Homo sapiens: one gene and its partners. The protein of the gene in region 1 purifies or fractionates together with the protein of each later gene. This does not show direct contact. Each region holds a gene or a part of one and is shown in the gene's direction. Other genes may lie near its edges. The genes, in order: PRSS33, CACNA2D1, CD109 and ANKRD40.

What was found.
Region 2: the proteins of PRSS33 (region 1) and CACNA2D1 purify together in Homo sapiens (affinity purification with mass spectrometry; 2 studies listed by BioGRID and IntAct, with this or other methods). This does not show direct contact.
Region 3: the proteins of PRSS33 (region 1) and CD109 purify together in Homo sapiens (affinity purification with mass spectrometry; 2 studies listed by BioGRID and IntAct, with this or other methods). This does not show direct contact.
Region 4: the proteins of PRSS33 (region 1) and ANKRD40 purify together in Homo sapiens (affinity purification with mass spectrometry; 2 studies listed by BioGRID and IntAct, with this or other methods). This does not show direct contact.

Annotation. Positions count from the first base shown.
Region 1 is NC_000016.10:2,783,609-2,792,689, reverse strand, and holds PRSS33 (serine protease 33 precursor), read left to right. Parts: upstream 1-5,129; 5' UTR 5,130-5,157; exon of another isoform or gene 5,158-5,215; intron 5,216-6,085; 5' UTR 6,086-6,142; coding exon 6,143-6,188; intron 6,189-6,568; coding exon 6,569-6,601; intron 6,602-6,728; coding exon 6,729-6,891; intron 6,892-7,043; coding exon 7,044-7,315; intron 7,316-7,518; coding exon 7,519-7,688; intron 7,689-7,887; coding exon 7,888-8,046; 3' UTR 8,047-8,737; downstream 8,738-9,081. UniProt on the Homo sapiens protein: Serine protease that has amidolytic activity, cleaving its substrates before Arg residues.
Region 2 is NC_000007.14:81,945,013-81,951,923, reverse strand, and holds the end of CACNA2D1 (voltage-dependent calcium channel subunit alpha-2/delta-1 isoform 1 preproprotein), read left to right. Parts: intron 1-1,415; coding exon 1,416-1,532; 3' UTR 1,533-5,480; downstream 5,481-6,911. UniProt on the Homo sapiens protein: The alpha-2/delta subunit of voltage-dependent calcium channels regulates calcium current density and activation/inactivation kinetics of the calcium channel. Plays an important role in excitation-contraction coupling.
Region 3 is NC_000006.12:73,824,390-73,830,077, forward strand, and holds the end of CD109 (CD109 antigen isoform 1 preproprotein), read left to right. Parts: 3' UTR 1-3,924; downstream 3,925-5,688. UniProt on the Homo sapiens protein: Modulates negatively TGFB1 signaling in keratinocytes.
Region 4 is NC_000017.11:50,697,152-50,704,914, reverse strand, and holds part of ANKRD40 (ankyrin repeat domain-containing protein 40), read left to right. Parts: intron 1-4,198; coding exon 4,199-4,347; intron 4,348-5,021; coding exon 5,022-5,516; intron 5,517-7,763.

The DNA of each region.
Region 1 (9,081 bases):
ATTACAGGCGTGAGCCACCGTGCCCAGCCTATTATTATCATTATTATTATGATGATTTGAGATGGAGTTTCGCTCCTGTCGCCCAGGCTGGACTGCAATGTTACCATCTCGGCTCACTGCAAACTCCACCTCCAGGTTCAAGCGATTCTCCTGCCTCAGCCTCCTGAGTAGCTGGGACTGATGGGCGCCACCACACCCAGCTAATTTTTGTATTTTTAGTAGAGATGGGGTTTCACCATATTGGCCAGGCTGGTCAGGAACTTCTGACAGAATATTATTTACCCTTAAAAAAGAATGAAATTCTTTCATATGCTACAACGCGGATGGATCTTGAGGACCTTATGCTAAGTGAAATAAGCTAGTTACAGAACAAAAAATACTGCAAAATTCCACTTATATGAGGTATTTAAAGTAACGAACTCATCAAAGCAGCAAGTAAAATGGTGGTTGCCAGGAGCTGGGGGAGAGGGACACACAGAGCTATTGTTCAAGGAAGAGAGTTTCAGTCAAGCAAGATGAAAATGCTCTAGAGATCTCTTTACGGCAATCTGCATATAGTTGACAATACTATACCATCCACTTAAAAATTAAGAGGGTATATTTGTTTATTTTGTGTGTGTGTGTTTTTGTTTTTTTTTTTTTTGAGACGGAGTCTCACTCTGTCACCCAGGCTGAAGTGCATTGGTGCGATCTCGGCTCACTGCAACCTCTGCCTCCCCAGTTCAAGCGATTCTCTTGCCTCAGCCTCCCAAGTAGCTGGGATTACAGGCGCACGCCACCACACCTGGCTAATTTTTTGTATTTTTAGTACAGACAGGGTTTCGCCATGTTGGCCAGGCTGATCTTGAACTCCTGACCTCAGGTGATCCACCTTCCTCAGCCTCCCAAAGTGCTGGGATTGCAGGTGTGAGCCACCGCACCCGGCCAAGATGGTATATTTGTATTGTGTGTTTTTTACCACTAAAAAAAAAAGAAAAAAAAAGAGTGGTGCTGAAGGGGAGGTGGGTCTACCTGAGGGTCTGTGCCTCAGTTTCTCAACATAGGAGCTGAGACAGGGGTTGGGTCTGGGGGCTCTTTCCCTCCTCTCCCAAAGATCCGATGTCCAATATTTAACCAGTTGCAGACCCTCCCCTGAAAAAAGCCCATTTCGCCGTGAGAATCCATTTCTTTAACCCAAGCCCTCAGGTGTCCTCAGATCTCCAACCTCCCCCTTCACCCCAAATTGCAACAGGCAGAGACCCAGCTCCCGCTGAACAGGCAGAGACCCAGCTCCCGCTGAACAGGCAGAGATCCAGCTCCCGCTGAACAGGGAGAGACACAGCTCCCGCTGAAGAGGCAGAGACCCAGCTCCCACTGAACAGGGAGTCCATCCTCCTAGCTGGCTTCCCTCCCAGTGCTTGGCCAAGTCCCCCGGGATGGCTGCATATTCTGAGGGTCCATTGTCACTCTCATACTGGTCCAGGTCTCCAGCCGCACCCAACCATGACAGAGAGGGACACTGCCCACCTGGCCTTGTCCCCACTATGCCCTCTAAGGGCAAGCCGACCTGGTATAGCAGAAGATTCTGGAGGCTCAGGGAGGGTGGGAGTGTACTTCTTTTATTCTTGCAGGACTTTCCTAGTATTTGGCAAGTGCTGGTCACTGTGCCAAGCTCTGCATGGTCAACCCCATTAATCTTTACCACAACCTACCAGGTGGATTTTGCAGATGAGGAAAGCAGGGTAGGTGAGGCTTCAACAGCTCTCCCAAGGACTCAGAGCTGGAGACCGGGGCGCCAAAGCCCAGTTGCAGAGAGCGGGTCTTGAGGGTGGTCCTAAAACGGGGACAGCAGAGGTCAGGCCTGAAGACCACCCTCTGTCTACGTTGCATCCAGATGCTGGGTCTGTGTCCCCACCAGCCCCCTCCTCTGTGTCCCTCAGCCTCATCCCCAGTCTGCTGCCCTGCTCAGCCTTGGCCACTTATTCCCAAATCCTTAGTGCCAGCTCTGTGCTGGGCACTGTCCTGCCCACTGGAGAATGTTATGCACTGAAATGTTTGTGTCCCCTCCAAAATTCATATGTCAAAGCCTTACTCACTGTTGTGACTGTATTTGCCCTTATGGAAGTAATTAAGGTTAAATGAGATCACAAGAGTAGGACCCTGCTGGGCACAGTGGCTCACGCCTATAATCCCGGCACTTTGGGAGGCCAAGGCGGGTGGATCGCCTGAGGTCAGGAGTTCAAGACCAGCCTGACCAACATGGAGAAACCTTGTCTCTACTAAAAGTACAAAATTAGCTGGGCGTGGTGGCGCATGCCTGTAATCCCAGCTACTCGGGAGGCTGAGGCAGAAGAATCACTTGAACCCGGGAGGCGGAGGTTGCGGTGAGCCGAGATTGTGCCACTGCACTCCAGCCTGGGCAACAAGACCAAAACCCTGTCTTAAAAAAAAAAAAAAAAAAAGAGTAGGACCCTAATCCAATAGAATTCGTGTCCTTATGAGACGGGATTTGTTCCCTTGACTGTGACCCCCTTCGTGGGCAGGAACTGGAGTGGCTCGTTTCACTCAGCTGTTGTTCGTGGATGGCTAAATATTAACAGTTCAGTGAAGGGTCAGGGTGACAGCATCCTGCACCTGCCCTTTTTGACACCCGAGTTCTTGTTCAGTGTCCAGGAAGAACCAGGTCACATGAGCTATTTGGAAGGTAGTGCATGCGGAGGATTTCAATGGGTGATAAAAGTGGCTGTCAGCAGGATGGGGAATTGATGCGGAAGGAAGGTGATCTTTCCCTGAAGTCGCACCATCTGAAGTTAGCCGCATCTATCCACAGCTAAAGCTCAGCCGCATGTATCCCCAAGGCTCAGCAGCTTGTATCCCTGCTGGTCAGCTGCTTGTGTTGCTCTTTTCTTCCTTTTCTTCTGCCATCTGGTCTGGTTTTTACCGGTACAGGTTAGGGGGCGGGGTGGGCCAAGAAGGCAATCATTTGGGCAGAAAAACAGGGTCAGATGTTTTCACTTAGGGCTGGGGCTCCAGGCTTGAAGGTGGGAGCCCAGCCGTTCTGTGTCACTCATAAGAAGTGACAAGAGTGCAACCTGTCTCTCTCCCTCCCCTCATGCACACAGAGGCCACGGAAGCACACAGCAAGATGCAGGCCACCCAACAAGCCAAGAAAAGTGGCCTTAGAATGAAAACTATGTTACTGGCACCTTGATCTTGGAATTCCCAGGCTCTAGAATCATGAGCAATACATTTATGTTGTTTAAGCCCCCACGGCCGGGCGCAGTGGTTCACGCCTGTAATCCCAGCACTTTGGGAGGCCGAGGCGGGCGGACCATGAGGTCAAGAGATCAAGACCATCCTGGCCAACAAGGTGAAACCGCGTCTCCACTAAAAATACAAAAAAAAAAAAAAAATTAGCCGGGTGTGATGGCGCGCACCTGTAAATCCCTGCTACTCAGGAGGCTGAGGCAGGAGAATAGCTTGAACCCGGGAGGTGGAGGTTGCAGTGAGCCGAGATCACGCCACCGCACTCCAGCCTGGAGACAGAGCAAGACTCTGTCTCAGAAAAAAAAAAAGAAAGCCCCTTCGGCTGTGGTTTTTGTTTATGGCAGCCCAAGCGGACTCCTACAGGGACACAGACCCAGACCCTGATGCTGGAGGGGAGACAAGAGGATGTAAATCAAACCTCCTCAAGTCCCTGTCAAAGGACAACTATGGGCTGGCCTCGGTGGCACATGCCTATAACCCCAGCACTTTGGGAGACTACAGCAAGAGGATCTCTTGAGCCCAGGAGTTCGAGAACAAGTTGGGCATCATTGCAAGACCCCATCTCTGGAAAAAAAAATTGCTAGGTGCTGTGGCATGCACCTGTGGTCCCAACTACTTGGGAAGCTGAGGTGGCAGGATCACTTGAGCCCAGAGGTCAAGGACGCAGGGAGTTGTGATTGTACCACTGCACTCCAGCCTGGGTGACAGAGCAAGACCCTGTCTCTCTCTCCCTTTTTATTTTTTTTTGAGACAGAATCTCACTGCGTCGCCCAGGCTGGAGTGCAGTGGCATAATCTCGGCTCACTGCAACTTCCACCTCCCGGGTTCAAGCAATTCCTGTGCCTCAGCCTCCCGAGTAGCTGAGATTGCAGGCGCCCACCATCAGGCCTGGCTAATTTTTGTATTTTTAGTAGAGACGAGGTTTCACCATGTTGGCCAGGCTCGTCTCAAACCCCTGACCTCAAATGAGCCACCCATCTCGGCTTCCCAAAATGCAGGGATTACAGGCATGAGCCACCATGCTTGGCCAAGACCCTGTCTCTTTAAAAAAAAAAAGAAAGAAAAACAAAAAAAAAAAAAAGGAAAAAAGTACAACTATGGCAGGGCTGCAAAGGAGGCAGGAGGAGGTGGCAGAGCAGAAGGCTGAGGGATAAGAGGAGTTCACTATGCAGAGAGGGACTTGAGAGACTTCTAGGCAGCGAACACTGTGTATGAGCCCAAGAGGGAACTACAGGGCCCTGGACCATCCGGGCCCCGGTCCTCCACGGGCCTCGAGAGAAGGGGAGTTCCTGTCCCCTGACCCCAGCATCTTGCTCTGTCTCGGCCACCCCAAACCAAAGACTGCACTGGTCCCCAAGGTCAAGTCTCCCCCTGCCTCTGGTCAAGTAAGGAGTGCCACCAACTTTGAACCAGTCCCTTTCCACCTCCAGCTGCTCCAGACCCCGGATCTGGAAGGGGGCTGGCCATGCTGGGGTCTCTGGGTGGAGCTGTCTGGCCAGGACTTCCGTCTGAGATGGGATTTCTGGACAGAACAATGGAGCGCAGAAGCTCCAGCAACGTGTGCTCTGCAGGGAGCCCAGGTCAGGTTTGGAGAGGAGTTGCCCCGGATCCTGCAGAGCTTCCCCACCTGACTGCCACCCCTCCCAGCACCTACCCGCACCACTGCTCTCCGCCAGCCCCCACTTCTAGTACCTTGGCGCAAGGCAGGCTTCCTTTGAGAAACCCATTGACCCTTTCCTGCCACCTCTGAAGCTCTGCTCAAAGCATCTTTGTTTGAGGCTGGTCCGGTAAAGCCACAGCCCCGCCCCGGCCCTGTTCATTACTCCTTGGCTGAGCCTCGCGCTCTCCTGGCACTTTAAGCCCCCAGGCCCTCCCTCAACCCCAGTCAGCAGAAGGCGCCAGGCTGTGAGGGTGAGAGCAAGCCAGGGGCTGTGGGGGCTGCAGGGGCAGCCAGTGGGTGAGGATGAGGGTGAGGACGAGGAGGGGTGAAGGATGGGGGAGGGGGTGAGGATGAGGGAAGTGGTGAAGATGAGGGAGGGGAGTGAGGAGGAAGGGGGTGAGGATAGAGGAGGGGGTGAGGATGAGGGAGGGGGTGACGATGGGGGGGTGAAGGATGGAGGAGGGGTGATGAGAGAGGAGTGAGGATGAGGGAGGGGGTGAAGGATGAGGGAGGGGGTGAGGATGAGACAGGGGTGAGGATGAGGGAGGGGGTGAGGATGAGGGAGGGGAGTGAGGAGGAGGGGGCTGAGGATGGAGGAGGGGGTGAGGATAGAGGAGGGGTGAGGATGAGGGAGGGGTGAGGATGAGAGAGGGGTGAGGATGAGAGGTGAGGATGAGGGAGGGGGTGAGGATGAGGGAGGGGAGTGAGGAGGAGCAGGGGTGACGATGGAGGACGGGGTGAGGATAGAGGAGGAGGTGAGGATGAGGGAGGGGGTGAGGATGAGAGAGGGATGAGGATGAGGGAAGGGGTGAGGATAAGGGAGGGGAGTGAGGAGGAGGGGGGTGAGGATGGAGGAGGGAGTGAGGATGAGGGAGGGGGTGAGGATGAGGGAGGGGGTGAGGATGGGGGAGGGGGATGAGGGAGGGAGTGAGGATGACCGAGGGGGGTTAGGCTCCAGGGCTTCTGTCGAGACCAAGGATGCCCAAATATCTGGGTGGTGGGTGCTGCATACCTGGGCCCTGGGCAGAACGAAGGGTATACAGCCTGGGCCACCAGGATAAGTCCAGAACCCACCAGGAGCTGAGGACAGACAGAAGGACCACGGAGGGGGTGACGGGCTGGTGTGAGGATTGGTGCCCCTGGGCCAGGACTCTCCTCTCTTCTCCCTGCTGGCTCCAGACCAGAGTCCAAGCCCTAGGCAGTGCCACCCTTACCCAGCCCAGCCTTGAAGACAGAATGAGAGGGGTTTCCTGTCTCCAGGTCCTGCTCCTTCTGGTGCTGGGTGAGTGGGGACAGGGACTGGGGGTGAGGGCCGCAGACACCTTGGCTCCCAGTTCTCCCATCTCACTGCTCCCTGGGCCGGGCTCCCTGGAGCACTCTTGGGCTTTCTAATCTTGATTCCAAGGGCTCAATCCTCTCTGCCACTGACCTTGACCTCACCACACCTCGATGTGCTTGTCGGTGTCATGCTCATACGCCCTTGCCCCCTGCACCTTCACAGTGCTCTGGGGAGGGTTAAATAAGATAACAGACGGCACGAAAGCCTGGCGCAATGTCAGGGCAACATTGTTTCACCCTCCTTCCTCATCTCTGGCCTCCCCTCCAACTCCGTTATTTGACACCAAATCTATAATCTGGTCCCTTCCCTGCTTCCTCCTCCAGGAGCTGCTGGGACTCAGGGAAGGAAGTCTGCAGGTGAGGAAGCCTCGGAGTCCACCCGAGTCAGCCCCTCCTGGACCTCGGCCCCGTGTCTCCCCACCAACACCTGCCTCCCAGGCCCCAGGTCCTCAGCCAACCCTCACCGCCCCTGGTCCTTTTCTAGCCTGCGGGCAGCCCCGCATGTCCAGTCGGATCGTTGGGGGCCGGGATGGCCGGGACGGAGAGTGGCCGTGGCAGGCGAGCATCCAGCATCGTGGGGCACACGTGTGCGGGGGGTCGCTCATCGCCCCCCAGTGGGTGCTGACAGCGGCGCACTGCTTCCCCAGGTCAGCGCTCACCGAGGGCCCAGGCGGGGTGTGCAAGGAAGGCAAGGCCCGCAGAGGACCGGGCGTGGCCTGGCAGAGGCGTTGGGGTCGAGGCGGGCTGGAGGGGGTCGAGGACCCGGTGCTGGAAGTAGTCCCCCGCTCCTGTCCTGCAGGAGGGCACTGCCAGCTGAGTACCGCGTGCGCCTGGGGGCGCTGCGTCTGGGCTCCACCTCGCCCCGCACGCTCTCGGTGCCCGTGCGACGGGTGCTGCTGCCCCCGGACTACTCCGAGGACGGGGCCCGCGGCGACCTGGCACTGCTGCAGCTGCGTCGCCCGGTGCCCCTGAGCGCTCGCGTCCAACCCGTCTGCCTGCCCGTGCCCGGCGCCCGCCCGCCGCCCGGCACACCATGCCGGGTCACCGGCTGGGGCAGCCTCCGCCCAGGAGGTAAGGCAGGAGGGCGGGGCTCCGAGGCATCCGGGAGCCCCCACGTCCTCCTCCATCTGACTGGAAATCCCAGCCCCTCACTGCCCCAATCCAGGACCCAGCGCGGCTTCTAGGGAACAAAACCTCCTCTCACTCAGAGCTCAGCTTCTCCCACTGGCCCCCGCTCCACGCCTTCCTCTCAGAGGTCCCTCCTCTTCCCCCAGTGCCCCTCCCAGAGTGGCGACCGCTACAAGGAGTAAGGGTGCCGCTGCTGGACTCGCGCACCTGCGACGGCCTCTACCACGTGGGCGCGGACGTGCCCCAGGCTGAGCGCATTGTGCTGCCTGGGAGTCTGTGTGCCGGCTACCCCCAGGGCCACAAGGACGCCTGCCAGGTGTGCACCCAGCCTCCCCAGCCTCCGGAGTCCCCTCCCTGTGCCCAGCACCCTCCCTCCCTGAACTCCAGGACCCAGGACATCCCAACTCAGGCTCAGGATCCTGGCCTCCAACCTAGAGGCACCACGCCAGGGGTCTGGAACCCTGAGAACTGAAGTCCTGGGAGGGCTGGGACTTAGGCTCCTCTTTCTCCTGCAGGGTGATTCTGGGGGACCTCTGACCTGCCTGCAGTCTGGGAGCTGGGTCCTGGTGGGCGTGGTGAGCTGGGGCAAGGGTTGTGCCCTGCCCAACCGTCCAGGGGTCTACACCAGTGTGGCCACATATAGCCCCTGGATTCAGGCTCGCGTCAGCTTCTAATGCTAGCCGGTGAGGCTGACCTGGAGCCAGCTGCTGGGGTCCCTCAGCCTCCTGGTTCATCCAGGCACCTGCCTATACCCCACATCCCTTCTGCCTCGAGGCCAAGATGCCTAAAAAAGCTAAAGGCCACCCCACCCCCCACCCACCACCTCCTGCCTCCTCTCCTCTTTGGGGATCACCAGCTCTGACTCCACCAACCCTCATCCAGGAATCTGCCATGAGTCCCAGGGAGTCACACTCCCCACTCCCTTCCTGGCTTGTATTTACTTTTCTTGGCCCTGGCCAGGGCTGGGCGCAAGGCACGCAGTGATGGGCAAACCAATTGCTGCCCATCTGGCCTGTGTGCCCATCTTTTTCTGGAGAAAGTCAGATTCACAGCATGACAGAGATTTGACACCAGGGAGATCCTCCATAGCTGGCTTTGAGGACACGGGGACCACAGCCATGAGCGGCCTCTAAGAGCTGAGAGACAGCCGGCAGGGAATCGGAACCCTCAGACCCACAGCCGCAAGGCACTGGATTCTGGCAGCACCCTGAAGGAGCTGGGAAGTAAGTTCTTCCCCAGCCTCCAGATAAGAGCCCCGCCGGCCAATCCCTTCATTTCAACCTAAAGAGACCCTAAGCAGAGAACCTAGCTGAGCCACTCCTGACCTACAAAGTTGTGACTTAATAAATGTGTGCTTTAAGCTGCTCCATTTGTGCTGACTTGTTATACAGCAATAAAAACTAATATAGATTTTGCCCCACTGTGATGAAGGTGTCCCAGTGGGAAAGGTGGGCTGGCCAGCGCGGCCACCTCCCCACATACTGCAAGAGGCTGGGCACTTGGTATCAGGCCCTCGGCCCAGGAGGGGTCAGGAGTCCCGGGGCAGGCCCAGATTCTGTTCTCATTGTGTCTGGCCACCATTCACTCCCAGGGTGAGCCTGGGGCCCAGGCCACCCTACTGACACCTGCACCCAGACGCCAACAGCTAGCCCACGTGCAGGTCCTTGCCCACCCTTGGGGTCCCCTTCCAGCCTGGTGCCTGGCATCCT
Region 2 (6,911 bases), on another chromosome or scaffold:
GGAAAACAGTATGGTGATTCCTTAAAGAATGAAAAGTAGAACTACCATTTGATCCAGTAGTCCCACTGCTGTGTATCTACCCTGAGGAAAAGAAGTCATTTTATGAAAAAGACACTTGCGCATGCATGTTTATAGCAGCACAATTCAAAATTGCAAAAATGTGGAACCAACCTAAATGTCCATCAACCAATGATTAAAGAAAATGTGGTATATATACAACATGGAATACACCTCAGCCATAAAAAGGAATGAAATAATGGCATTTGCAGCAACCTAGATGGAGTTGGAGACCATTTTTCTAAGGGAAGTAACTCATGAATGGAAAACCAAATATTGTATGTTCTAACTTCTAAGTGGGAGCTAAGCTATAAGGATGCAGAGGCATAAGAATGATATAATGGACTTTGGGGACTTGGGAGGAATGGGAGTAAGGGATAAAGTACTACATACATTCGGTGCATTGTACATTGCTTGGGTGACAGGTGCACCAAAATCTCAGAAATCACCACTAAAGAATTATCCATGTAACCAAAACCACCTGTTCCCCAAAATCTATTGAAATAAAATTTAAAAATAATAAGGAGGTTTTTAAAAATGAAATTCACTATGTTAAAAGGAATTAAAGGATGTGGACAATGTTATCAAATATAGAACCTAGGAATAAAAGATGAATAATACTTTTGCATTAAGAGGGAACTAAATGAGCTACCACTAGACTGTGGGGAGTTAATGGGAGTATATTCATTCTAATATTTCTTGGTTGTCTCAAGACAAATCTCTTCCTAGCTTAGCTCTCTATTTTGGATATATATTTGCAAAGCAAAATCCTATATGTGTCCAAATAATGTATTTGAACCAACATAAACAATGGTTCAAATACATTATTCCCATTTTACTTTAATTCTTGATGAAGGTCCAGATGCTATGATTGCACTCTATGTTGAGCCTTATAAATTGTATAAGAAATATGGGAAATGGAAATGTATTTATTTTACCAGTCCCCAACTTTACCATATGGAGCATAGTTGCTAAAATCATAATTCTTGGGAATTATAAAACCTACTATTAAATTTTACATTTATTTCTTGCATTTATAAATATATAGGATTTTTGATACTGTGAAAGTTTTTTCTTTAAAATTAGTATATTATTCAAACAGCATTTATTATTTTCTTTCATAATCATCAAAAGCTACAACTAAAAATTTAAAGCATTTGTCAAATGATGCTAGGGAAATTCCTCAATGATAAAATCTAGGAGAAAGTAATTTCTTTGGATTTCAATTACAGCAGTTTTATAAGGTAAGTTCAGAAAGTGAACTAAATATGGATTACTCTGAAAGATGTGTTACTAAATATTTTTCAAGATTTTTAGATTTTTCTTTTTCTGTTCTTTTCTTTTTTTTTTAACAACAGGAGGATTATACTGACTGTGGTGGTGTTTCTGGATTAAATCCCTCCCTGTGGTATATCATTGGAATCCAGTTTCTACTACTTTGGCTGGTATCTGGCAGCACACACCGCCTGTTATGACCTTCTAAAAACCAAATCTGCATAGTTAAACTCCAGACCCTGCCAAAACATGAGCCCTGCCCTCAATTACAGTAACGTAGGGTCAGCTATAAAATCAGACAAACATTAGCTGGGCCTGTTCCATGGCATAACACTAAGGCGCAGACTCCTAAGGCACCCACTGGCTGCATGTCAGGGTGTCAGATCCTTAAACGTGTGTGAATGCTGCATCATCTATGTGTAACATCAAAGCAAAATCCTATACGTGTCCTCTATTGGAAAATTTGGGAGTTTGTTGTTGCATTGTTGGTGATTACATGTGAAAGGGTTCCCCATACAATTGTTAATGAACCATAAGAAATGTCTTGATATTGACCTGGAATTTTGACTTGCTGCAATTTTACTAAGAAAATCTCTAAGGGGAAAGAAATTATTTTTGCCTTCACTTTTTCTTCTGTGAAAAGTTAATTCCTGCTTTAAGTAGCAATTATTGAAATATATAGAGAAAGAGAGAATTAACATTGGTCTAAATTGTTGAAATATAAATAATGGCTAATTTTCTATGAAAAATTTGCCATGAATAAAATGCCTTATGAAGAACGGCTTCTTTGCCAAAAATAAAACACAATTGATGACCAATTCAATTTTGATGGGGTAATGAATTGATGGTTTGAAAATAGTAACTAAGAAATTATTAAACTAAAGGTGCTTGAGGGAGAAATTAGAATATGTGACATATTTCCTCATAAATGTAAGCAAGCCCTTAATAAATGCTTTGATGTAATGTTCCTTTTGTTCACAGTACAGTTATGTAGTGCTAGCCAGATATTTAAAAATGCTCTAAGAAAAGCTTGTCAGGGGGGAGGGGGAAATGTTTTTCTTGTGATAAATGAACTTTGGTTTACCAAGGGTATTTTGCATGATGCTGCTGCTATTTTAACTTTTCAGTTGTTTTTTCTCTTACTGTAGAGTGTAGTCATTGAAAAGTTAACTGAGTGATATTGTTATGTAAGAATCTGAACCTTGCAGTGTAAATGCACTTAAGTCATCTTTAAAATGTTGTTAAACTACTCTGAATATACTGTGCAATGTAAATGCTGAATGATTGGGGTTAGATAAATGGTGAAATGAGAATTAATGAATTTTATACAGATTCATGCTTTCGCCTGATAACCTATGTACAGATATTTTAAGTACATAAATCAGATTTGACACATTTATTTTTTGAAAAGTACATATATGTTCTCAATGAAGATTCATCCTAGGTTTCCTCTTTGTTCGTTTCAATAGTAGCACATACAATCCAAAAGTTCCTGCTACTGCTGCTTTTGCCCTTCCATTTTAAATGGTATGATCGTTTGGCCAAAATTTCCATGCAAGTTGATAAGGGTTTTACAATAATCTGAACAAATAGGAAACCTTGAATCTCTATGTATGCACATGAATACTTGATTGTGAATAATAAAAGTTGTTTTTTATACAGCCTCATTGGTGAAAATGGTTAGTGTAGTAAATCAGATATTTCATTATAGACTAATATGGTAGCAGATTATTTATGCTTTTAAAAATTATTTTCTGGAGCAAACAGTATTTGAAGAAAAGGTAAAAACTATGAATGTGTAATTCTAAGAATAGTTAATAATTTTACTGAAGGCTGAACGTATGTAGATATTTTTTATGATAAAATGCAGTTTTTCTTTTTTTGGAACATGCCAATTACTGGTATGTGTATATGCTGGAAATTTTCTTACATATCCTTTTTAAGTCAAAGTTATTAACATTATCCAGCATGCTTTAATATGCTCCACATATCAAAGATATAACCAATAATTTAACGTAGCTTAAAAGATAACATTTGTTTTGTTTTTAGCTTTGCATACATTTGTAATTCCCTCCCACCACCAATATACCTTAGGTACCATTTGTGTACATTTCAAGATTTTTTTTTTCAATAAAAAGGTGGGGGGAAATGGAATCACTTTGCCAACTATTGTTCTAAGAGTTGACATCAGTTACCATTTCTAATGCATTGTTGTGATTTTGTAGTGTCATTCATAACTGGTATTGACATTTTAGAAAACACCAAAGTGATTTAAAATATATGTGGGGAAAAAAACTTCTCACTCTAGTAACAATGTTTTAATCATGTTGTTTGTTAAATATTTAAAAGTTATTGTTCAATTTTTGCTAGACTATCTTAAATCATGATAGTGTTGGGAAGGGGGTATCAAAATATAAAATTGTTAGTTTGTGTATATAAACAATGCACATTAAAACAATTGAATTGCTTCCAGCATACAACAAACTACCTTAAAATTATGTTCAAAATCTATTAAATATATTTTCATGGCTAATGTCGAGTATATGTTTTCATCAATTACATTGTTATTGTATTAATCGCGGTTAAACTTGGCATCTCTTGGCAGGATCCTATTTAATTTCTGTTGCCATCAAAATATATTTATATGCATGAGTTTTGCTATAAACCTTTATTTTCTGCTATAAAGTTATATATTATGACAACCATAAATGCAATTACAAATTGGGTAAGAACAAGCTGAATAAAAGTTGTTCCCATGACTAATATTAGTCTTCATGCTTTTAGCATATTTTTTAAGACAGTAACACTCATCCCATCAAATTATTACATTACATTTAGTATTTTTCTGAGTTACATTGACAAGAACTTAAATTATAGCCTGTTATTAATATTGATTTCCAACGACTGAACAGTACAACAGATCAATAAAAAAGTTTATACACTGCTTTAACTAATTTTTGTTATACTCATGTGGCTTAGTGTAGTTAGTCACTAAAACAGAGTTCAAGTGAGCTTGGCAATGGTGTTGAGTAACAAGAAAGAATTTTGCATTAATGATTTCTTTTTATTTTCCTCATTTAAACAACCAGCATTACTGCCAAACACCAACCGTGGTCCATATTTGTAACAGGTTTTTAACATGACATAGTTAGCAAGTTTGATTGAAGAGATTTTTAGGTCCTGGGCCTATAAGATTTTAGTATGATCTTTTTTCATGTTTCTAATGCTTGAGGTGTTACTGCTTAACTTGGGAAAAAAAAAAACAAAAAACAGTGTTCCTGCCATTTGTAAGTTTTCCTATAATATTCCTTTTATTAACTTTAAAACTGGACTTATCGGGTTCAAATAGGCAGTATCCCTTTTAAGTGACCTTTGCAACCCAAGTGTTACTTGCTTATTTGATGCTCTCTTGTATTTTAAATCTCATTTAAATCTTTGTCTGTGACCAACAAAGCTTAAGATTTTGTCTTCATTTAAAACTCTGAATCTATTCCATTGATCATGTTAGACGTTCAAATGTTTAATGGTATAGTCTGACCTAGTGAAACAAAATGGATGTTGTTACTTTTTTTAAAGAATAGAATGAAATAACTATTTCACTTGCCCAAAATTTTAAATATTTTTTCATCTAAACTTGTATTGTTTCCCATAGCAGAATGTCAATATTCACAGTACATTTCTGTAAAGAGCAAACCAATATAATGTTTTGAGTGTTGAAAAAAATTCCAGATTTTTGAAGAATTAGACAACTCTTCATCTACCTTATTTCTAGTTCACACAGTTATCTCAAATTCCACTGAAACTAATGGGATACTGTCTTGTGTAGATGCCAGTTGAGTTTATAATGTGACCTAGTAAAGCTGTCTTTTTTGTTGTGTTGTATGAGTGTCGGATCATGCTTTTAGGAATACTTTTATTAAAATGGTGTGCATTCATGCAAAAGGCCAACTGGCTTTTGTGAACAATAGATCTTTTCTCCCCTTTATTTTGTTCTCTTGACACTTTTGTGAAAATTACCTAGCCTGATAAAAACATTTTGTAAAAATTTGTATAATACTGTTATAAAATATTTATAATCCCAGAAAATGTTGTGTTAAATCTTGTGCAAAAACAGTATATTCAGAATAAAAGTTTATCATTTAAAGTCACCACGCGGTTTGGGTTTTCTGCTTTTTAAAAGATCCAGTTGGAAGAGACAGATGGCTCTGTCATAAATAATTTTAAGAGAGAATTCTGGATTGTGGAAATAAAAGTTGGGATTAAATAGTGCTTTTACAATTACAAACCTCAACTCACACAAATACAGTCAATCCTTGAACAACATATGTTTGAACCACATGGATATACTTATATGTGGATTTTTTTCAACCAAATGCAGATTGAAAATACAGTATTTGCAAGATGGAAAACCCACATATACCAGGTGCCTACTTTCTGTATACTCAGATTCTGCGGGGCCACTTTCCAGACTTGACTTGGGTATGCATTGATTTTGATACACGTGGGCATCCTGAAACTGATCCCCCCCACGCACAGAGGGATGACTGTCAATTCACTCGCGATGCCTTTACTTAAGTCTAACCTTCTAACATGCCTTCTCCATCAAGGCACTTAGGAATGTACTTCATCAGACTTTGGACTTCTTTTATAAAAAAAAGTTCCCTAATGTTTCCATGTTTCTTTAAAGACCTCAGAAAAGTAGGTTAAAAGAAAGAAACAAGTTAGAGTATCTGAAATGTGCTTTTCTTCTATGCATCTAACATTTGAACAGCAGCTGAGGCAATGAAGTATAAAGAATTTTCCCTAAAAGCCCTATTAGATTCCTTTTACACTTATACCAGCTTACAACCTGACTTCCTATGCTCACGTGATAAACTGATGAGCCTGATGTTATATGGAATCTAGTATAACGTAGGCCTACCATCTTTTTTTCCTCTGGAGAATTTGAAAAATACCTACGTATGGGTGGAATGTAGTATGTGGGTACCCGTGATGGTGATTACTGGAAAATCTGACCCCTATGTCTGATAAAGACATTTTAACAGGAAAGGAAAAAAAAAAAAAAAAACTACACGAAAGTGTAACGTAGATTACATTTGTTTTTTGAACATCTGGATTCATTCTATACCAATTTATCTCTTCAATTTTCTTTCCCCAGAGACCTTCATTTCCTCTATCAATCATTTTGATCCCACTCCTGCCTCTTCTCTTGGGACCTTGCTTCATCAGTTCTTCTTTCTCAAGCATATTCCGTACCCCTTCTCAGCAGGCTTCTTTCCCTCTGGTCTAAAGTCATTTGGAACACCTCTATCTAAAACAAACTGAACAATCAAACATCCACCCCTGCCTATTAACCCTATTACTTCCTAGATTTATAAACCTAGAATTATTTATTTGTACATCCACAGACATATATTGGTAGTCTTTTCTCCTTGGCGTTATATTCAAGTAGGTCTTCTTAGAATTTTAGATCTTTAAGACACATTACCTCTGACCACCAGATTTCACTACTGCTGAAAATTTTTAATTATTGGTATGAGGTCCTAATAAATTCAAGTTCTTGGATATTTCTCAATTCC
Region 3 (5,688 bases), on another chromosome or scaffold:
CCAGCTCTATTTCAGGGGTGAGAGTCAGAGAGCACTGCAATATGTGCTTCATGGGATTTCGATTCGAAGATCCTAGACCAGGGAGACACTGTGAGCCAGGGATACAACAAAATACTAGGTAAGTCACTGCAGACCGACCTCCCTGCAGTTTGGGAAAGAAGCTGGGTTTGTGGAGAATCAGAGCATCTTGACATGACTGCTGACCTAAAGATCCCTGGCATTGGCCAGGGATCCTGTGGAACCTCTTCTAGTTCAGGGGTGTGAGCATTAGACTGCCAGTTGTCTAGTGACATCTGATGCTTGCTGTGAACTTTTAAGATCCCCGAATCCTGAGCACCTCAATCTTTAATTGCCCTGTATTCCGAAGGGTAATATAATTTATCTGGATGGAAATTTTAAAGATGAATCCCCCTTTTTTCTTTTCTTCTCTCTTTTCTTTCCTTCTCCCTTTCTTCTTTGCCTTCTAAATATACTGAAATGATTTAGATATGTGTCAACAATTAATGATCTTTTATTCAATCTAAGAAATGGTTTAGTTTTTCTCTTTAGCTCTATGGCATTTCACTCAAGTGGACAGGGGAAAAAGTAATTGCCATGGGCTCCAAAGAATTTGCTTTATGTTTTTAGCTATTTAAAAATAAATCCATCAAAAATAAAGTATGCAAATGTATCTTTTAAAGTTAATTTTTAAAAATGCTCTTATTTTAGTGAATTTTCAGAAATTATAGTGGAATGGATGCTCATATATTGCTTATGGATATTTTGGATACCAAAGTAGGAATAACTGACATTCAGTATTTTAAAGCTGGCAAACCTGTACATAGAAAATAGATCCCCAGACAGTGGTCTATGAAGAGGGCAGTTAAGTATCAAATACTTAATTTTCTTGCCTTTTTTTCTTAAGTGGGGAAAAGTTTCTAGATCTCTTACACCTCTGACACAATCTGTTCTAAAACAGGCACTTGTAATGTTGGGGCCTCCTTGTAAACGTGTTTTTGCCCTTTACTCTCTGGGAGTTCTTTAAAGGTGAAATCATCTTACAAAGAAATTGGGGGAGGGTCTTGGCAAAGGACTTTCCCCTCCTCTTTCCTGGCCTGGGAACCTTATACTGACAATCAATACTTTATATTTTAAAGTATATAATTTATAGTTAACTTCTAGTGTAATATATTAGGAAACACTAGAATGGAAAGGCCATTGGAAGACAGGTTGTATCTTTTTTAGACCATATTTCCTTGTTTAAAAACTATCATTTGAATACTTTTTTGGTGAAGAACTCCATGTTTTCAAGTTAAAGGTCACCTCGTAGGCCAGGCGCAGTGGCTCATGCCTGTAATCCCAGCACTCTGGGAGGCTGAGGCGGGTGAATCACAAGGTTAGGAGTTTGAGACCAGCCTGGCCAATATGGTGAAACCCCGTCCCTACTAAAAATACAAAATTTAGCCAGGCGTGGTGGCATGCACCTGTAGTCCCACCTACTCGGGAGGCTGAGGCAGGAGAATCACTTGAACCTGAGAGACAGAGGTTGCAGTGAGCCGAGATCACGCCACTGCACTCCAGCCTGGGGGACAGAGTGAGATTCTGTCTCAAAAAACAAAAAACAAAAAAGTCACCTTGTAACTCATCTCTTTTTATTGTAAGTTTATTAAAAATGAAGAGGACAACAATGAGAAGGAACATAAAGGGTTAGCTAGCACTGTCTCCTGGTGCATGGGGCTGTGCAGATGTCCCGGCCACTTCTTCCTTCATACTTCCCTTAGAGAACTTGCTCTGCTACAAGCAGTGGGCTTGGACTAAAAGTGATTAAAATACCACAGGCATAAGGAGAAAAGGAGTATATGTAGTAGTAATAATTACTAGTATAAATTATTTTCTTCACATGCTATGAGTAATAATATTAAAAAACTCATTTTACCATTAAGATTCCTTATGCTGAAGCTCTTCCATTTAGAATACTGTCAATGTCATTTACTGGTATGAACTAAAGTCCCCCTTCTTTTCCACTCACTGGGAACCTTAGTAAAACACCAGCATATCTTACCTCTCTTTCTGACTGGCCGATGCTTCCAGAGACTGAATGTTGGGAAAACCTAGTAGCCAAACAATTCTAGGACAGAATAACATTTTTATATTTGGTTCCACCATCTTATTACATTTAGTTATAGTTTTAAAAAAGAAATTCAAGCCCATTAAAATATGTCTGGTCAATGAAATGCTTCCTTTTATTGTGTTGTGCTATTGTACTTTGTTTTTCAAAACATTGTAAAAATAGTATCTTTGGTTTAGTATTTTGGATTATATATTATAATCTGAGGAGTGTTTTGCTTATGTAGAATCCAGATATATTTCTGTTACCTAGGAGATGTTACTTACATATGTAATACTGTATCCTGCACGTGGAAATATTCAGAATTGTAGATAGCATAACTCTCCCTGCTCCTATTCTTTTGAGCCTAGGTATAATTTTTTTTTTTTTTTTAGAAAAAGACATATTTAGCTTTAATTTCTATTTATGCTAAACATATTTATAAGTAGTCTGTCAATATAATACCAACTATTTTTATTTTTACATAATTCAATTATTTCATTTGACATGTCTGGCAGACTCAAGACATTAAGTAAAAAATTGGAACTATGATTTTTCTTTGTCATTTTTTAAAAAAGAATTATTTTATTAACCTGCTGGCATATAATCTGGAGTTCTTTTCACAACCTTACTTTTTCTGATTTGCTTTATTGAATGATTGAATACTCATTTCTTTCTAAAAATATGTTGTAAATTCTCCCTTGGCAAGATTTCTCCCTATGAGGGTAGTTATTATTTGAGTCTGCCAAGTGGTTACCATGGGGCAAGGTGCCATGATGTATTCTTGGGTGCATTGGTTTTTTGCGCATTGTAAATTTAAGACACTTATAGTAAGTGGACTCATTCATAGATGAGTTTCAGAACCTTTTACGTTCTCGGTAGAGGCTTCTGTCGGACAGGCAGAAGAGTGTATTCCTCACTTTTTTTTTTGTCTTCAAATTCCAGTAAGGCATAGCACTTTTAAGAAATTAGAATTTTTCTATCATCTATGCAAATGATATTTATGTTAATATTAAATATCTTATGTTACACTGGGAGTAATTTGAGGTGCAATTATTTTTATTACTACTTTGAATAGAGGACCATTATCCTTCTTTCTTCAGAAAACTAAGAAGTAAGTGTAACTTTTAAAGTAAGTATATATCAGTGAGAGTAGGCTTGTTTTACAACTATTTCTAGCCAGTGAGTTGTGTTTTCATGTCTCATCAAAAGACAATACCACATTGCATCATTTTACAAAATATGTTGTCATTTTCATTTCAGTTGTAACATAGGAAAATAGATATTTCCTAGATGATTTCTGAGTTTCTTACTGCAAAGAACAGTTATAAATTGGTATACATGTGTCTCTGTAATAGGGATAATATTGATATATCTGTTGCTACATATTTAAGAATCATTCTATCTTATGTTGTCTTGAGGCCAAGATTTACCACGTTTGCCCAGTGTATTGAATTGGTGGTAGAAGGTAGTTCCATGTTCCATTTGTAGATCTTTAAGATTTTATCTTTGATAACTTTAATAGAATGTGGCTCAGTTCTGGTCCTTCAAGCCTGTATGGTTTGGATTTTCAGTAGGGGACAGTTGATGTGGAGTCAATCTCTTTGGTACACAGGAAGCTTTATAAAATTTCATTCACGAATCTCTTATTTTGGGAAGCTGTTTTGCATATGAGAAGAACACTGTTGAAATAAGGAACTAAAGCTTTATATATTGATCAAGGTGATTCTGAAAGTTTTAATTTTTAATGTTGTAATGTTATGTTATTGTTAATTGTACTTTATTATGTATTCAATAGAAAATCATGATTTATTAATAAAAGCTTAAATTCTCATCTATTTATTATGTGTTCTTTTTATTTTAGCATAAAGCATGTCTATAGCACACCTCCCTTATTTAAGCTTATTTATGAGAAACAGGATATTTGAGGCTAGCTTAGAGTAGGGATTATTGTGTTGCAAGGTAGCAACATAATGAAGTTGAAGAAATTTGATTACCAGCCTCCTTTACCTCCCCGCTCAGTGGAGAGGTAAGTAATACACAAATTAAAAAAATTAATGTGAGGTGAGCACTCACTTAATCTCTGGAAATTATATAGAAGTATATAGAACACATAGTTTTTATACACACAGGAAAATGGAGGCACAGATTGTCTCAGCCAGAACATAAGATTTCATGTACATTTTCTTAATTCCCACCCAGTGTTATTTAATATTTCTGTTGCCATGAATTTTCTGGGCTTCTGTGAAATACTAAAGATAGCATTTCACAATCGGGGGTTCTCAACTGGAAGTGATTTTGCCTTCAGCAACCATTTGCCAATGTCTGTACATTTTTTGGTTAACATAATTGGAGGTAGTGCTGTTGTCATCTAGGGAATGGAGGTCAGGGATGCTGCTAGACATCCTACAATGCGCCAGACAGCTCCTTACAACAAAGAATTATTTGACCCAAAATATGAAAAGTTCTGAGGTTGAAAAACCCTCTAGCTCAGTGATGCTGGGCCCTTCTAGATCACCTCATGATGCCAATTGTTTAATATGATTAAGTTAATACACTCTTATATAAGAATAGAGTCGTTGGAATCACTGGACAGATACTTAGATTAACAAATAAGTTTATATCCCAAGTCTAGGAAACTTCACTTGGAGACTGGGAAAAGATGAAGTAATTATTTTTTGAAAATATCTATAATGGTAGTTTCCAAACTTGATAGACATTAGACTCTCTTAAGAGCTTGGTTTGACAAACATTTCTGGCCTTACTTTAAGAAATCCTAATTCAGCATATCTAGAATCAGGTTCTGGATCTGAATTGTTAAGCAAATAGGTGATTCTGATGATTATTTTAATCTGAGAACCACTGGATTATTTAATGAGTTTTCCAGGCCTCACTGGCCTGGGTATGAAATGGGATCCTGGAAATAGCATCATCCATGCCATCTAAGTGATGATGCAGGGCCTCCAGCCCCGCCGACAGTCCTTCCCAGTGATTCCTGGGGGCTTCCAGGACTGTTCTGTGCTCTCACAAAAGATCCCAAGAGCTGTCCCCTGGGATTTGCTTTGTTCTTTCTCTCCTATCTGGCACACTTTGTTGATGTTCAGTGTAGCAGAGACTGCTACTTTCTTCCTCCTATTCAACCCGTTCTCTTCCTCCTCCTTAGTCTCAGGAGGAGCTACATTTCCCAGATGACTTTGCAGCAAGGTAGAGTCCTGGACCAGGTTCTGGTCAGTGGGATATAGGCTAAAGATATTAGTGATACTTGTGAGAAGTATTCCTAAAAGGAAGGGAGTAGGTGCCTTGCCCTTTTTTTTTTTTTTGCTTTTTCTTCATCCTGCTGCCTGGACTGTGGATGACTGACTGAAGCTCTATCAGTTTTTTGGTCCTTTAGTGGGAAGGCCAAACCCTTAGGACTGGAGGTTGGAGATCTTGAAGGAGCCGGGGTCCCTAATGACTGTGGAGCCACCCTGAACCACCTACCTTTGGATTTCTTCTGCAAGTGAGAAAACATCTACTTTGTTTAAACCAGTTGTGGTGGTGGGTAGGCCCTAGGGTGGGCCCCATGACCCCTGCCTGCTGATGATCAGGCCATTGTGGATCCC
Region 4 (7,763 bases), on another chromosome or scaffold:
TCTCGATCTCCTGACCTTGTGATCCGCCTGACTCTGCCTCCCAAAGTTCTGGGATTACAGGCGTGAGCCACCGTGCCCGGCCAGCTCAGATAGGGTTCTAAGTGTTTTACATGTGTTAGCTTGTTCACAACTACCTGGGGACATAGTTACTGTTCTCTCCATTTACAGATGAAGAAACTGAGGCCCAGAAACCGTAAGTTGTTTCCTCACTTTTCACAGTGCCCCTTCCCAAGGTCATAGGATTGACAGTAACTAGTGGAGCCAGAAAACAAACCTGGTATCTGATGCCAGACCTACCCTCCTAAACACAATGTCTGCCCCATAGGAGGTGTTTAGTGAAGTGATTCTGAGGTAGCCTGAAGAGGCTTCTTATAGGTTTTTTTTTTTTTTTTTTTTTTTGAGATGGAGTTTCACTCTTGTCACCCAGGCTGGAGTGCAATGCGTGATCTCAGCTCACTGCATCCTCCACCTCCTGGGTTCAAGCGATTCTCCTGCCTCATCCTCCCAAGTAACTAGGATTACAGGTGTGTGCCACCACGCCTGGCTAGTTTTTTGTATTTTTAGTAGAAATGGGGTTTCACCATGTTAGCCAAGCTGGTCTCGAACTCCTGACCTCAGGTGATCTGCCCGCCTCGGCCTCCCAAAGTGCTGGGATTATAGGCGTGAGCCACCGCGCCCGGCCTCTTGTAGATTTAATTGGAGGAACTGTCTAATAGGCCCCTCAAACTCAACATGTCCAAGATTGAATTCCAAGTCTCCCCTCATCCCTCTACCACCTCAAGCCTGCTCCTCTGAGTCCTCAGCCTCTCAGGAGTGCTCAGGCCAGAACCCTTGGCACCCTGCTTGCCTCCTGCTTGCCTCCTGTCTTTCATAGCCGACATCCAGTCAGCCAATTCTATGAGCTCCACCTTCAGATACAGTCAGAATCTGACTACTTCTCACTAACCCTACCACTACACCTCTGATACAAAGCCACCATTGTTTCTCTTGCTTGGATTATTACAATAGCCTCCTACTAGTGTCCTTGCTCCTAAGCTTATATCATACAGTCTTCTTAATTAACACAGTGGTCAGAGGGATCCTGACTTAAAACATAAGTCAGATCATTTCACTCTGCTCAAAAATGGCTCCTATCTCACTCAGTAAAAGCCTACAGGGTCCTACAATTTCTACTTCCTGTCCCCACATCTTCCCTCCTTACCTCTGTGCTAATCTCATGGGATTTGCCCTTCTGCTTACCTTTTTCCCCTGGCCTCCTTGCTTTCTCTGGAATACCAGACAGTCCTGATTCAAGATCTTTGCGTTTTGTCTTCCCACTCTCTTAAATGCTTTCCCTCCAGATATCACATGGTTTGCTTCCTCACCACCTTCAGATTTTAGTTTAGATGTCACCTTCTTGGCAAGGCTTTTCCTGGGCCCTCAATTTAAAGTTGCACAATGCCCCTTTCCAACCTCTGTCATTCCCTAATGCCTTTCCCTGCTTTACTATTGCTGTCATACTTCATCACCACCTAGCGTACTGCGTGCTTTGCTTATTTATTTGCTGATGTCTGTTTCCTCTTCTGTAAAATGGGGGGAATGTTGACAGTAGTATTACCTCATGGGTTTAGAGGATTAAATAAGTTAATACATGTAATGCCTTTAGAACAATGTCCAACACGTAAAGCATTATACCTGTATTAGCCATTGTTGTTGTTTTCTTATTATGAAGCAATATGCTAGATAATGGAATATAAGGTTACCCTCAAAAAAACGTACTCTCTTGCATTTGCAAAGCAGAATGGTGACTGCTTTCAAGTCTTAGTTGCTCAGTAATCACAATTTCAGCACCAATGAGTGATGCCCTGTTGATGAATGACACCCAGTGCCTCAGGTCTGAAATAGTTTCTGACACTAATAAGATATTTTGACTGCAAATGTAAAGCTTAAGGAGTTGAAGTTCAAAGATAGAGTAATCTATCAATTAGATTGATCACTAATCATTCCCCCACATCAGTTGTAATTCAAGTGTCATGCATAACCCTTGGTTCATGAAGAACTTGAAAATATTACCTGGCTGCAGGGGCTCTGAGTTATGGCTGCCCAGAGCCGCACAGCTCTGGACGGTAAATGATGATCACTAAGGCACAGGGCTGTGGGGGCCACGCTATGTTGACTTAACCCTGCTTTACATGGGTGGTAGTTTAGCAAGTTGGTTTGTCCCAGAGTCTCTCAGACCCACTGGTAGTAAATTACCTCCTTTACTCTCAAGCTTGCCACGAACAAGTGATCTACTACTAGCAAGTGAGCATTTTATTTCCAAAAGGGAGCATATTTTTCTCATCATGCTTCATTCATTTTTGAGGGCTCACTTATCATTATAATTGTTCACTTTTTAAGCCTGTGCCACAGACATCCACACACAAACACACTCAAGGTTCCAGTTTGCCCAGAATCAAGGGTAGATTGGATCCTTCTACTTCAAGCAAGGTCCACTTTATCCTTAGTTTACTCATTTGGTACTTTTTTTTTTTTTGAGATGGAGTCTTGCTGTGTTGCCCAGGCTGAAGTGCAGTGGCACAATCTTGGCTCGCTGCAACCTCCACCTCCTGGGTTCAAGCAATTCTCCTGCCTCAGCCTCCCCAGTAGCTGGGATTACAGACATGCACCATCACACTAATTTTTGTATTTTTAGTAGAGATGGGGTTTCACCCTATTGGGCAGGCTGGTCTCAAACTCCCGACCTAAAGTGATCCACCTGCCTTGGCCTCCCTAAGTGCTGGGATTACAGGTGTGAGCCACCGTGCCTGGCCCATTCAGTAAATATTAATTAATACATGCCAAGCAAACACTTCCTTGCCTTCAGGGAGCTTGATCAAGACTCTTCTCTCCCAAACTTAACGAGACTCTTATTTTTCCCAAATTAGCAATAATTTTGTCATTGCATCATGGAATACACCTTAAAGGAACCTGGATAATCTAATTCTAATGAACCATAATGTAGAATGTCACTCTGAGACATCAATGGAATTGCTCCCAGCCAGCCAGACATGCTAACTTTCTGTAAGTTACTAATGTTAAGCCCAGGGCAAATCAGCTTTTTCCTGGAATCATATAAACTTTCCAAATAATTATACTTCCCAGGTTAGTGAACTAACCTTCAATATTGAACATTTGTTCTAATCTTCATTTCTGTATTTGGCTATAAGAGCTCTGAAGATATGTATCTCAGTTCAGTTAGAGAGTTGGTGAAAGAAGACCTTTCAAAACACAGGCGAAAAGTATTTTCCTTCCATAATATACAGTCAGCTCTGGCACCTAGGGATGGATTTAGTTGCTCTGAATCTTTCATTTCTGTTAAGATGGAGTTTTTGCTGGCATGCTAATTATGTTTCTGTACAGTATTAAAATAGTAGCCCTTCAGAGTGTGCAGAATTGCTTCCTCTGTGTACAATATTGAGTGATTAGTTTTACTTAAATGAGTCTGATATGTTAGAAGAACCTGTTCGTGAAGAATTTTGGTTGTTGATGTATATTTTTTAAGTACCTCAGGAATTAAAGTATGTGTGCAGTGCCTTACATTTACGCAGATGAGGATATGTTTGTAGCCTTCTGGAGAGAACTAGAGAAGCCAACTTTTTAAAAATGGAAATTTGGAAATCCTTTGTGTGTGTGTTAAGGAAAGAAAAGTAAGAAGGAAAAAGAAAGTGAGCAACTGGGATTCAGGCAAGAATATCTGCTGTCATAATAATAATTTAAGTGACAGAGCAAGCTGCTGATAGGAGATGGTTATTATCCTGATAATATTGAATCTTCAGGTGGCATATGAAGTGAGTTTCCATAGTCCCTGAAAAGGAATATAGCAATAGAAAAATATGTTTCAGAGACTGAGATGATCTAATGAGCGATACTGATAGAGTATATTCCACGGTATCATTGGAGTTAGCCAGCCAGTGAGCTTACCTTCTGGAGGCTATTGAAATTAAAACTCCTAGGTTAAGTTAGTTTTTCTCAGGAGCCAGAAATGAAATTTAAAAACAAAATTTAAGCATATTAAATATTTTGCTCATCGGCTTTGTGAAAAGTTGAGATTACCAGCCCGGTTACCTGGTTCTAGCTGAACTCTAACAGGCTTGTTTATACATTATTTACTAATGTTTAGAATCTGAAATCCAAAATCACTTCTCCTCTTTTTCAATCATTATTTTCTTTGGTACAGGACTTGTTTACACTGGGCATGTAAACGAAACCATGGTCAGGTGGTCTCTTACCTGTTAAAATCAGGAGCTGACAAAGAAATTCTTACCACAAAAGGAGAAATGCCAGTCCAGTTAACATCAAGGAGAGAAATCAGGAAGATTATGGGAGGTGAGTCTGTGTTTGGGGGAACTTTTGATTTCCTCAGACTCATTGAAGACTTGTGGTATTATTGGCTACGTTCTTAATGCTGGTCAAACAACTGCTCTATTTCTTTCTTTTTTTTTTTTTTTCCGAGACGGAGTTTAGCTCTTGTTGCCCAGGCTGGAGTGCAGTGGCGTGATCTCGGCTCACCACAACCTCTGCCTCCCAGGTTCAAGTGATTCTCCTGCCTCAGCCTCCCAAGTAGCTAGGATTACAGGCATGTGCCACCACGTCTCGCTAATTTTGTATTTTTAGTAGAGACGGGGTTTCACCATGTTGGTCAGGCTGGTCTCAAACTCCCGACCTCAGGTGATCCGCCAGCCTCAGCCTCCCAAAGTGCTGGGATTACAGGCATGAGGCACCGCTCCCGGCAACTGTTCTATTTCTAAAAGCAAATTACTGTGCCAAGATAGTAATTCCAGATTGTTTCTGGGGAGGTCAGCATTGTAAGGTTTTATTTTTTTATTTGTAAAATTTAAGATAATGATAAAAATGGTAATCATAAACCTAATGAAGTATTCTTTTTTCTTCTGACCTGACACTGACCAATGTCACATACCAAAAGACACCACTTTCAAAAGACACCTTGTTTTGATAATTTTGAAAGGACTGTGTAAATGTTCTGTTTTCTTCTTTTTAAGTGGAAGAAGAAGATGATGATGATGATGATGATGACAACCTCCCCCAGCTGAAGAAGGAGTCAGAACTGCCCTTTGTTCCCAACTATTTGGCCAACCCAGCCTTCCCTTTTATCTATACACCCACAGCAGAGGATTCAGCCCAGATGCAGAATGGGGGCCCCTCCACACCCCCTGCATCACCCCCTGCAGATGGCTCACCTCCATTGCTTCCCCCTGGGGAACCTCCCCTGTTAGGGACCTTTCCCCGGGACCACACCTCTTTGGCACTAGTTCAGAATGGTGATGTGTCGGCCCCCTCTGCCATACTCAGAACACCAGAAAGCACAAAACCGGGTCCTGTTTGTCAGCCACCAGTGAGTCAGAGCCGCTCCCTGTTTTCTTCTGTCCCGTCCAAGCCACCAATGTCTCTGGAGCCTCAAAATGGGACGTATGCAGGACCAGCGCCAGCATTCCAGCCATTTTTCTTCACTGGAGCATTTCCATTTAATATGCAAGGTAACCCCTCATCAGCAAACAGCCTCTGCAACAGGGGAGTTGGTGTCCAGAGGGGTGGGATTTAATGAGGTATTCTGGGTATAATTGCAAACTTACAGAAACGTTACATGACTAACATAAGGAACTCCCTTTACTCAAATTCACAAATTGTTTACCTTTTGCCCTTTTACCCTGATACCCTTCAGTATTCTTTCCATTATATCTTTCCTAAGAACAAGGATATTCTCTCTTTTTTTTATTGAGACGTAGCTTCGCCCTGTCACCCAGGCTGGAGTACAGTGGTGTGATCTTGGCTCACTGCAACCTCCGCCTCCCAGGTTCAAGTGATTCTTCTGCCTCAGCCTCCCAAGTAGCTGAGATTACAGGAGCATGCCACCACGCCTGGCTAATTTTTTTTTTTTTTTTTTTTTTTTGTATTTTTAGTAGAGATGGGGTTTCACCATGTTGGCCAGGCTGGTCTCAAACTCCTGACCTTAAGTGATCTGCCTGCCTCAGCCTCCCAAAGTGCTGAGATTATAGGTGTGAATCACCGCACCCAGCTGGATATTCTCTTATATAACTACAGTACAAATGACCAAATTTGAGAAATGTAATCTTGAGCTAATGCTGTTCTGTAATCCATAGACCATGTTTAAATTTTGTCAGTTGTCTCAAACATTGCCTTTTGTATTCCCTCATCTACTATACGTACTGTCTGTACTATTACAGAAATAGTACTATCTGTACTATTGATATCTATCTGGACTATCTGTACTCCTCTGCCCCCTGCATCCTGCCCAGGATCATATGTTGCATGTAGTTATCACGTTGTTTTAGTTTCCTTTAATCTGGAATCTTTACCCTTTATCATTTTTGATCTTGATCTTTTTGAAGAGTCCAGGCCAATTATTTTTGTGGGATATGATTTTCTATCATTCTTTCTCTACTTATTAGTTGGTATTTTACTGTAAAGAAGGGCTTTCCCTTCTCCTTCATTCATATCAGTATTGACTCATATATTCTTATTTTATTCAGTGGGTTATAATCTGTTACTATCATTTTTTAATTATTCAAATTATCCCAGATTTGGCCAGTGGGAGCCCCTTGAAGCTAGTTCTTATGTCCCTTGCATGTGTCTTCATTGTTCTTGGAGCACTGCCTTACTTTCTGGGGCAGCAAGATGTTCCGGGCTTATAGCATAACTTTTCCTGCCCCAACCCTGGAATCAGTCATTTCTCCAAGAAGCCCTGGTTCTTTTTGGTGGAGAATGGTATTTAGGGCACACAGCAAACTTGCCTCCCACTTGGGCCCACCGAGAATGGTATTCAGACACCAGGATGTGGTCACTAGGTGTCCTCATTGCTACAGGTATATCATTTCTTCTAGGCCCGTTGAGAGGACATAGCCAGGAAAGATATCAATATTTCTCTATGTATAACTTTTTAAAAATATTAAAAACCACAAGTTCATCCTGATTCTTCCAAATCCAGTCAAATGCCATAGGGTGTAGCTAGTCTTACTTTTCCTTTTTTCCTGGAAGTAACTCTCTCACTTCCTGTTTTTGAGGAGTTACTACTGTAGGTGCTAACAGTGACCTGGGGTGCTACAAGGGATTCATATACAGGGAACAAAGCAGAACTGCCAAATGTACAGGGTGCTTGACTCAGGCTGTCTTGGCAGCCAGGTTCAGAATAAAGGAGCAGATTGCTTAGATCCCAGACCTATGAATAATAAGCCAAGACCCCTTCCTCATGAAGGTGTGCTACATTCAAATCAAGTTATACTTTAGCTTTTATTAGTAGCTTGTCATTTGGCTCTTTTACTGTCTTTTTTGCAAGGAGTTTCATATTTTACAGATACCTTTAGGTCCATAATTGTTAAATCTTTTTAGGGTAACTCACATCCTGCCCATGCCTTCTTTCCAACCTTCTTCCCTCTTCCCCTGTTCATGTATAGTTTGATACCCAAACCTGTTCTTAAGACTTTGCCTCCTTAGCTCCAATGGCAGAAGTAAATTATCCTTCTACATAGCTGGAATGGTTTCCCCTGCCTTGCTCTTACTTTGTGAACCATAGCCTTAGAAGTACGGACGACAGTGCAGGAAACTGCCCCAGCAGAGGCAGAGCTGGGCCTGAGCAAACCCTGCTGGCTGCACTTGGTTTTCCCACCAAACAGGTCTGTTAATCATGCACAGACCTTTGGCATGATTAAGTATAACCATCTTCTGGAAAAGATCTTAAACAACATGGGCTGTGCTGTGCCAGAACT